Linked DNA regions of Homo sapiens. The protein of the gene in region 1 purifies or fractionates together with the protein of each later gene. This does not show direct contact. Each region holds a gene or a part of one and is shown in the gene's direction. Other genes may lie near its edges.

What was found.
Region 2: the proteins of LY9 (region 1) and IDUA purify together in Homo sapiens (affinity purification with mass spectrometry; one large-scale study listed by BioGRID and IntAct). This does not show direct contact.

The regions. Positions count from the first base shown.
Region 1 is NC_000001.11:160,816,516-160,820,326, forward strand, and holds part of LY9 (T-lymphocyte surface antigen Ly-9 isoform a precursor), read left to right. Parts: intron 1-78; coding exon 79-348; intron 349-1,702; coding exon 1,703-1,804; intron 1,805-2,805; coding exon 2,806-2,859; intron 2,860-3,811. UniProt on the Homo sapiens protein: Self-ligand receptor of the signaling lymphocytic activation molecule (SLAM) family.
Region 2 is NC_000004.12:996,733-1,000,543, forward strand, and holds part of IDUA (alpha-L-iduronidase isoform a precursor), read left to right. Parts: intron 1-1,632; coding exon of another isoform or gene 1,633-2,257; intron 2,258-2,691; coding exon of another isoform or gene 2,692-3,023; exon of another isoform or gene 3,024-3,332; intron 3,333-3,811. Other genes in the region: uncharacterized protein LOC124900646, read left to right, coding at 1,633-2,257, 2,692-3,023.

The DNA.
Region 1 (3,811 bases):
TATTTTCAATGAATGAAGACAGGTGACTGCTCAGGGGGCAGGCCTGATTCCACATGGAGTCTGCCTCTCTCCTCACAGGCAGGCTGAGGAAGCCCAAAATCACGTGGAGCCTCAGGCACAGTGAGGATGGCATCTGCAGGATCAGCCTGACCTGCTCCGTGGAGGACGGGGGAAACACTGTCATGTACACATGGACCCCGCTGCAGAAGGAAGCTGTTGTGTCCCAAGGGGAATCACACCTCAATGTCTCATGGAGAAGCAGTGAAAATCACCCCAACCTCACATGCACAGCCAGCAACCCTGTCAGCAGGAGTTCCCACCAGTTTCTTTCTGAGAACATCTGTTCAGGTTTCTCTCCATCTCTATTTACTCAGGTCACAGGACCTTGGGGCCTCCAAGAGTTTGCATCCTGACTGATTCTTTATGAAGTGCAGTAAGAGGCTGTGGGTGAGAGCCCTTTAGAGTGGCATGCTTCCACAGATATATGAGAGTCACGCATGTGATTTTAATGTTCTAATAGCCACGTTAGAAAAAGCAAGAAGAAATAAAGTTATTTTAATAATATGTTTTATTTAACTGAATATATCCAAAATATCATTATTCAACGTGTATTCAATACAAAAAAATTCATTAGACACTACATTTTATTTTGTACTAAGTCTTTGAGAGCCAGTATGTATTTTACACTTAGAGCACGTCTCGATTCCGATGCTAAATTTTCACTGAAAGTGTTTAATCTATATTCAGACTTCGTAAAATTTACAGTTGAAAAAATAGATTTATGCACCCAAGTTATTCCAAGCATATTTATCAGTTTTTCAAGAAGGAATTGAGTAGCCATTTTTAAATTTAAACTAAAACTAAATAAAAGAAGCAATTTGGTGTCTCAGTAATACTAGCCACACTTCAAGGGCTTATGCATAGCTTGTGGCTACCATATTGAACAGCACAGAGTTACAGGCTTGTGGAGAAAAGCCAATAGGAAGCTGATATGGAAAGGGATGTGGACCACACAGGAACAAAGGCTGCGTGAGTGGGAGCTAGAAAAGAAGCCCCAGTGGCCCTTAATAAATGCTAAGTACTATTCTAGGCCTTCAGGCATTTTTGCACAATCTTCGCAACAATCCTACAGAGTAGATATTCTCGTTTTTCCCCTTTATATGGATAAAGAAACTGAGGCTCAGAAAAGATAAGGGACTTATCCAAGGTCACACCATAAAAGCTGGTTTCGAACCCTGAGCTCTATCTTCTGCTCTTCCGTAGAAGGAAGCAGAAAAAAGGTACGGTCTACCCAGGATCTGACAATGTTGGGTCAGATTGTGTCTGGCAGACAGATCTAGAGTCCAGCTTAACAGGAATCTGGAACTCCCCTCATATCATTTACAGCGGGGCAGTGTAATGTGGCGATTAAGGGCGCTGTAGGATCTGCACTCGAACCTCAGGTCAGACACTTGAAACACTGTGACACTGGGCAAGCCGTAAACCTCTCTACCCAGGGACTGTCTGCCTCAGGTACTGCTATAACCTCTTGCCTAGAGTAATGCTTGCTCGAAAAATGGTTGTAGAATGAATGAAAAGAAAGACTTTCCACAACGTCATGGATTTTAAGGGGCAGGTAGGATGGCCATCATGTTCTGTGCATTGTTTGCTCCAGTGTGTCTTGTCATTATTTGAATTAACATCACTCATTTCCTCCTCAAAGGACCTGAGAGAAACACAAAGCTTTGGATTGGGTTGTTCCTGATGGTTTGCCTTCTGTGCGTTGGGATCTTCAGCTGGTGCATTTGGAAGCGAAAAGGACGGTGTGAGTTTCCGAGATCAATGTTGTCCGCCAGTGCTAGGCCATTTCCCTGGGACTTGTGGAGGCTTCTCTGCCCTCACACAATCCCGTGCTACCCCTCCCTGCCAGCATCTTATTTCTTCTCAGAGCAATGGGGGAGGGGTGTCAGTTGGGACTCTTTACTCACAAATAATAGAAGCCCAGTTCAAACTGGCTTAGACAGAAAAAAAAAGGCATGTGGGAGCAGGGAGAGTGATTTATTATTTTTTCACTTAAATAATCAATCTGTGGGGAAGGCAGGGATAGAGCTGGCATAATGGAGAAATGTCACCAGAGGCTCAAAAGTCATCAGAGCTCTCCACCTTTCATCTCTACTGTGTATTTTGAGTCAGCTTAACTCTTCCTACTGCAGCCCGCTGAGGGAAGGGGTGGGAGCGAGGGGAGGAGTGTACCACAACACAACAGCTGGCAGCTCCAGACCCACACATACTAACAGCTCCGACACCAGACAGGGAAGAAAATGTGCTTCCCTCTAACTCCAATTTAAAGAATGTCAGAAATAGCTCTGATTGGCCCAAGTTAAGGTCATGTGGCTGCTGCTTGGACCAATTTCTATAGCCAAGAAGATACACTATTATGATTGGCAGCTCCTCTAGAATCCCAGTATTGGAGTGGAAATGAAGTAGTAGCCAAAAAGAGCAGAATGGGTAGAACACATGGGGTCCCTGGAAGAATTACTGAATTGCAGGCAAACTACTCTGATCAGTGGCTATGGCAGAGGAGCTCTCTCTTCTGGAGGGATGGCAGGAAGCTCCAGAGCCTCCACCTCTGCAGAAAGTAGCCCTAGACTCTGGCCACCCCTTCACATAGGCCTGGCTTCTCATCAGGGTTCATCCTCCTTCCTGAAGCCTTTTCCCTGTCTATGTCCCAGAAGTCTCTCCCCTTCTCATTTGACTCTCACAGAATAAAAGACACCTCTCACCTCACAGCCCTCTTGATAAACCTTCTCTAACTTTGTTTCTCAGGTTCAGTCCCAGCCTTCTGTTCCAGCCAAGCTGAGGCCCCAGCGGATACACCAGGTAACATCACCCATGACACAGGCTATGGGGTATCTGGTCCAAATGGAAGTTCTAAAGTCTTGCTGCTCAAAGTGTGGTCTGCTGGCCAGCAGTGTGGGCATCACCCAGGAAACTTGTTAGAAATGCAAAATCTGACCAGGTGCCGTGGCTCACACCTGTAATCCCAGCACTTCGGGAGGCTGAGGCAGGTAGATCACTTGAGGCCAGGAGTTCAAGACCAGCCTGGCCAACAAAGTGAAACCCTGTCTCTACTAAAAATAGAAAAAATTATCTGGGCATGGTGGTGCACGCCTGTAATCCCAGCTACTCGGGAGGCTGAGGCATGAGAATCTATTTAACCTGGGAGGTGGAGGTTGCAGTCAGCCTAGATCACGCCACTGCACTACAGTCTGGGCAACAGGGCAAGACTCTGTCTCAAAAAAAAAAAAAAAAAACAGAAAGAGAAAGAAAGAGAGAGAAAGAAAGGAAGGAAGGAAGGAAGGGAGGGAGGGAGGGAGGGAGGGAGGGAATCTTGGGCATCACCCCAGAATACTGATTCCAAACCTGTATTTTAACAAGATCCATAAGTGATTCATATGCCTACTGAAGTTTGAAAAGGAAGGTAGCATAGAAACAAAAGCCAAGATAGACTCCTTAGAGATGGTCACCAGAGCTAGGAGAGGCAGTCTGTCCCCCAGGGTCTCTAGGGTTCCTTGGGCATTAGCCATTCACCATTTGAATGTGGACTACAATGAGGATGGAGTTATTGTCTCCATTCTGAGAACAGAGAAACAAAGGCCAGATGGAACAGTACATCTGTGGTAGAAAAAAATTTAAAACTTAATTAAAATTAAACTTCAGGAGACTGTACAACCTATTACCTAAGAGCATCGTGGGAAATGGAACTGCTCTGACAGGTTTTAGTGTGGGGAGCTGAGATGCCTGCCTTTACTCCCCCACTCCCATGCCACAG
Region 2 (3,811 bases), on another chromosome or scaffold:
CTCAGTTTCTCTGAGCATTGAGGCAGTGGCTGGTGCTGTCCTGTGGCCAGGCCCAGAGGCTGAGTGCCCAGGGGGTCCAGGGGCCTTGCTGGCCAGAGAGAGTGGGTAGCCCATTCTACCCCGAGCCTGTGCACGCGCAGGGCTGCCAACACCTCCTTCCTTCCCCGCTTGGCCCACGCAGGACAGGGGGCGTGGGGGCCCCAGCAACTGGGACCTGCCTGAATCCGCCTCCCTCCTGAACCCCCCTCCCGCCTGAACCCCTGGCCAGTCTTGTGTCACACGCTTACTTCCTTAGTTTTGTCTTTAAATCAGCCGTTTTACATTGGAGTCCATTTACTGGGAAAGGAGACCTTGCATCCTTGCCTCCCACCCGTGGGAAGAAGCCCGGCCGACAGGGCTTTGAGACCGGACCCGAGTTTATTCCCAGAGACCCTCCCGCGGGTGGGCGAGCTCCGAGGTCTGGAGAAGAGGAGGCCCCGGCCCGCACCCTCTAGCACCTGTGTCCCCTTCGTCCCGGCCACAGATGCAGGTTCTCCCAAGAGGCGGGTCTGTACCCGCCCCGCGCCCCCAGCCCAGCGGGCCCGGCCTCCGCCCCTGCCCCGCACTCCCACCCCCACCCTCAGGAGAGCGCGGCCCTGCTCCCCACCCCGCGCGGTCTCCCCCCACCGCCTGCGAACCCCCATGCACGCGCGGCCCCGCCCCGCGCACTCACCAGGCCCGGCAGCCGCGCGGTCTTAGCGGCTCACGCGCTCGGGCCCAGGGGCGGGGACGTGGGGACCCGGGCGGCCGCTCAGCCGCGGCCGCGCGGTGAATGAGCCCGTTGTGCGGCCGCCGCGGCCCCAGCGACACCCCGCGCGGGGTCTACAAGGGCTGACGCGCCCCCGCGGCTTCCGTTCCCGGGCTGGGCGGTGGCTCGTCTGCGTCTCCGGCCCTGGGGGTGGGCTGCGCGCTCCATCTCGCCGGCCCAGTCCCCTCCCCAGCGTCGGTCTCTCAAGGCCCCTCCCAATGGGGGCCAGGCGGAGGGTGGGCCCTCGGGCCTGTGGACTGACCCCGGGGTTCCTGGGCCTGGGGGCGGGGATCCCTGTCCCGGGCTCCCCTCGCTGCGAGGCTGGCCCTGCCAGATGACACTCAGAGGCGCCTTGGGTGTCAGGCCAGGGACATCTCTGATGCTGGGGCTCCCCCCGCTAGGGTCAGGGGCTGCCGGGCTATCGCCTTGGGGTTCTGCAGAGAAAACCTGAAGCCCAGCTGGGTCTTCACTTTCCTCCAGGTCACCGTGCCCCGCTACTCCAACTCCGTGGGACTTTGGAATGCACCTTCTGGGCATTTAATTCTTATCCAAGTGCCTCTTAAGTTATACTTCTTTGCTACCAGTGTGTCCTTTGGATGGAGGGGAGGAGAGGTGGTAGGGGCCGGGTGGGGTGGACCCCAGGGACTCCTGCTGCTCCTGCTGGACACCCAGCCCGGGGTACAGGAGCAGGTGGGGACCAGCAGAGGCGGGGCGGAGCAGGAGCCCACACCCAAAGGCTGTAGACTCCTGCCAAGGCTCTGCCTTGATCTTGTACACCATGGGAGGACCAGAAGGGAGGCGTTGAGGTGTCCAGACCTTTGCTGTGGAGCTGGGGGTGCTGTGGCATGGGGAGACTGACAGACGGGGAGCTGTATAGGGCCAGATTCCGGTCCATGGTGGTAACCCCATCCCCCACCACTGCAGATGCGGCACAAAGCCAGCTGCCACAGGAGGTGCACTGCCCCACGGGCAGCTGTGCTCACCTGCGTGGCGTCCGCAGGAAGCCCTCAGACCCTGGCCAGCCTGGTCTCTGCTTCTCACTCCAGGCTCAAGGCTGGCTGCTATTCCATTCACCCCATTCCCTTTCCCTCAGGCCAGAAGCATCACTCACAACTCCAGACCCTTGCACACCAATCTCCTCACTCAGTTCACCCTCAGATGTCCAACTCCACATGGCCAAAACCGAGACCAGTCTCACTCCAAGCTCATCCACCCGCCTAGCTGCCCAAGCTGAAATCCACAGTTGCCCTGTACGACCCCCCGACCCCCCACCTCACCCCCCAGCTCACCTCAAACCTCATCAGTCCCTCTGCTCACAGCCTGCACAGCCACCACCCAGTCTGGGCACCATACCTCTCTGGGCAACCCCCATGGCCCCCAGCCAGTCTTCCAGCTCCCACCCTGACTCCAGTGAGCTGCCAGAGGGATCCTTGAAAAATGCTCTGGAAGCCAAGGTGGGCGGATCACGAGGTCAGGAAATGGAAACCATCCTGGCTAACATGGTGAAACTCCGTCTCTACTAAAAATACAAAAAAATTAGCCGGGCGTGGTGGCGGGCGCCTGTAGTCCCAGCTACTCAGGAGGCTGAGGCAGGAGAATGGTGTGAACCCGGGAGGGGGAGCTTGCAGTGAGCCGAGATCGCGCCACTGCACCCCAGGCTGGGCAACAGAGTGAGACTCTGTCTCAAAAAAAAAAAAAAGAAAAAAGAAAAATGCCCTGGCACTGCTCAGCTCAGAACCTTGAAAGGGATCCTTGTTTCGCTCTGGGTCAGGGTCCCATCCTCAAAGCAGTCACTTCCAGAGCCCCATGGAGCCTCATATCCCATGATATCCACCCTTATTCTGTCTCAGGCCCACCAGCTGCCTCCCTGCTGCCTGATTGTCATGTGTGCATTCCTGTTCCAGAGCCTTTGCACTGGCGATGCCATCTGCTGCCTGGATGTCTTCCTGCTGGCTGGTCCCGTTGCATGGTAGCCTTAGGTGTCTCCTCAGAGAGGTCCCTCGCTGACCATCAGGCTCCTCACTCCCTGTCGTATCCCCTTCACCAAAGATTCCCATTCCCTGACGACGCCTGTCCCCTCGGAATGCAGGCCTCGTGGGAATTCAGCCCATCCGCAAGTGCAGTGGCAGGGCGGCCCCCTTCCCCCTTGACGACGCCTGTCCCCTTGGAATGCAGGCCTCGTGGGAATTCAGCCCATCTGCAAGTGCAGTGGCAGGGCGGCCCCCTTCTCCCTTGAGGACGCCTGTCCCCTCGTAATGCAGGCCTCGTGGGAATTCAGCCCATCTGCAAGTGCAGTGGCAGGGCGGCCCCCTTCTCCCTTGAGGACGCCTGTCCCCTCGTAATGCAGGCCTCGTGGGAATTCAGCCCATCTGCAAGTGCAGTGGCAGGGCGGCCCCCTTCTCCCTTGAGGACGCCTGTCCCCTCGGAATGCAGGCCTCGTGGGAATTCAGCCCCATCTGCAAGTGCAGTGGCAGGGCGGCCCCCTTCTCCCTTGACGACGCCTGTCCCCTCGGAATGCAGGCCTCGTGGGAATTCAGCCCCATCGGCAAGTGCAGTGGCAGGGCGGCCCCCTTCACCCTTGACGACGCCTGTCCCCTCGGAATGCAGGCCTCATGGGAATTCAGCCCATCTGCAAGTGCAGTGGCAGGGTGGCCCCCTTCTCCCTTTCCTGTGCACTCATGTTGCCTCTTGGGGTGTGGGAGGGGAAATGGGGCACTCCTGGGCCTCCAGGAGGTGCAGAGAACCAGGGTGAGGTGTCCACCAGGTCCTGCCTGGCTCCTGACCCCTGGCCCCTGCTGCTCGCGACTGGCCTGCCTCGTGCCACTGAGCCTCAGAGCCATTCCGAACCCCCACCCCAAGTTTTCCATCTCTTGATGGTGTAGGGTTGGGGGGTCTCCATGTACAGATACTCTAGTTCATACCAGGCCTTCATAGGGTTATTTTCCAAGGGGAAGGGCCCCTCGGGAAGCCGGGATCGGAGTCCTGTGTGGCACCTTGCAGGCTCCCACATGCTCCGTTGTGGCC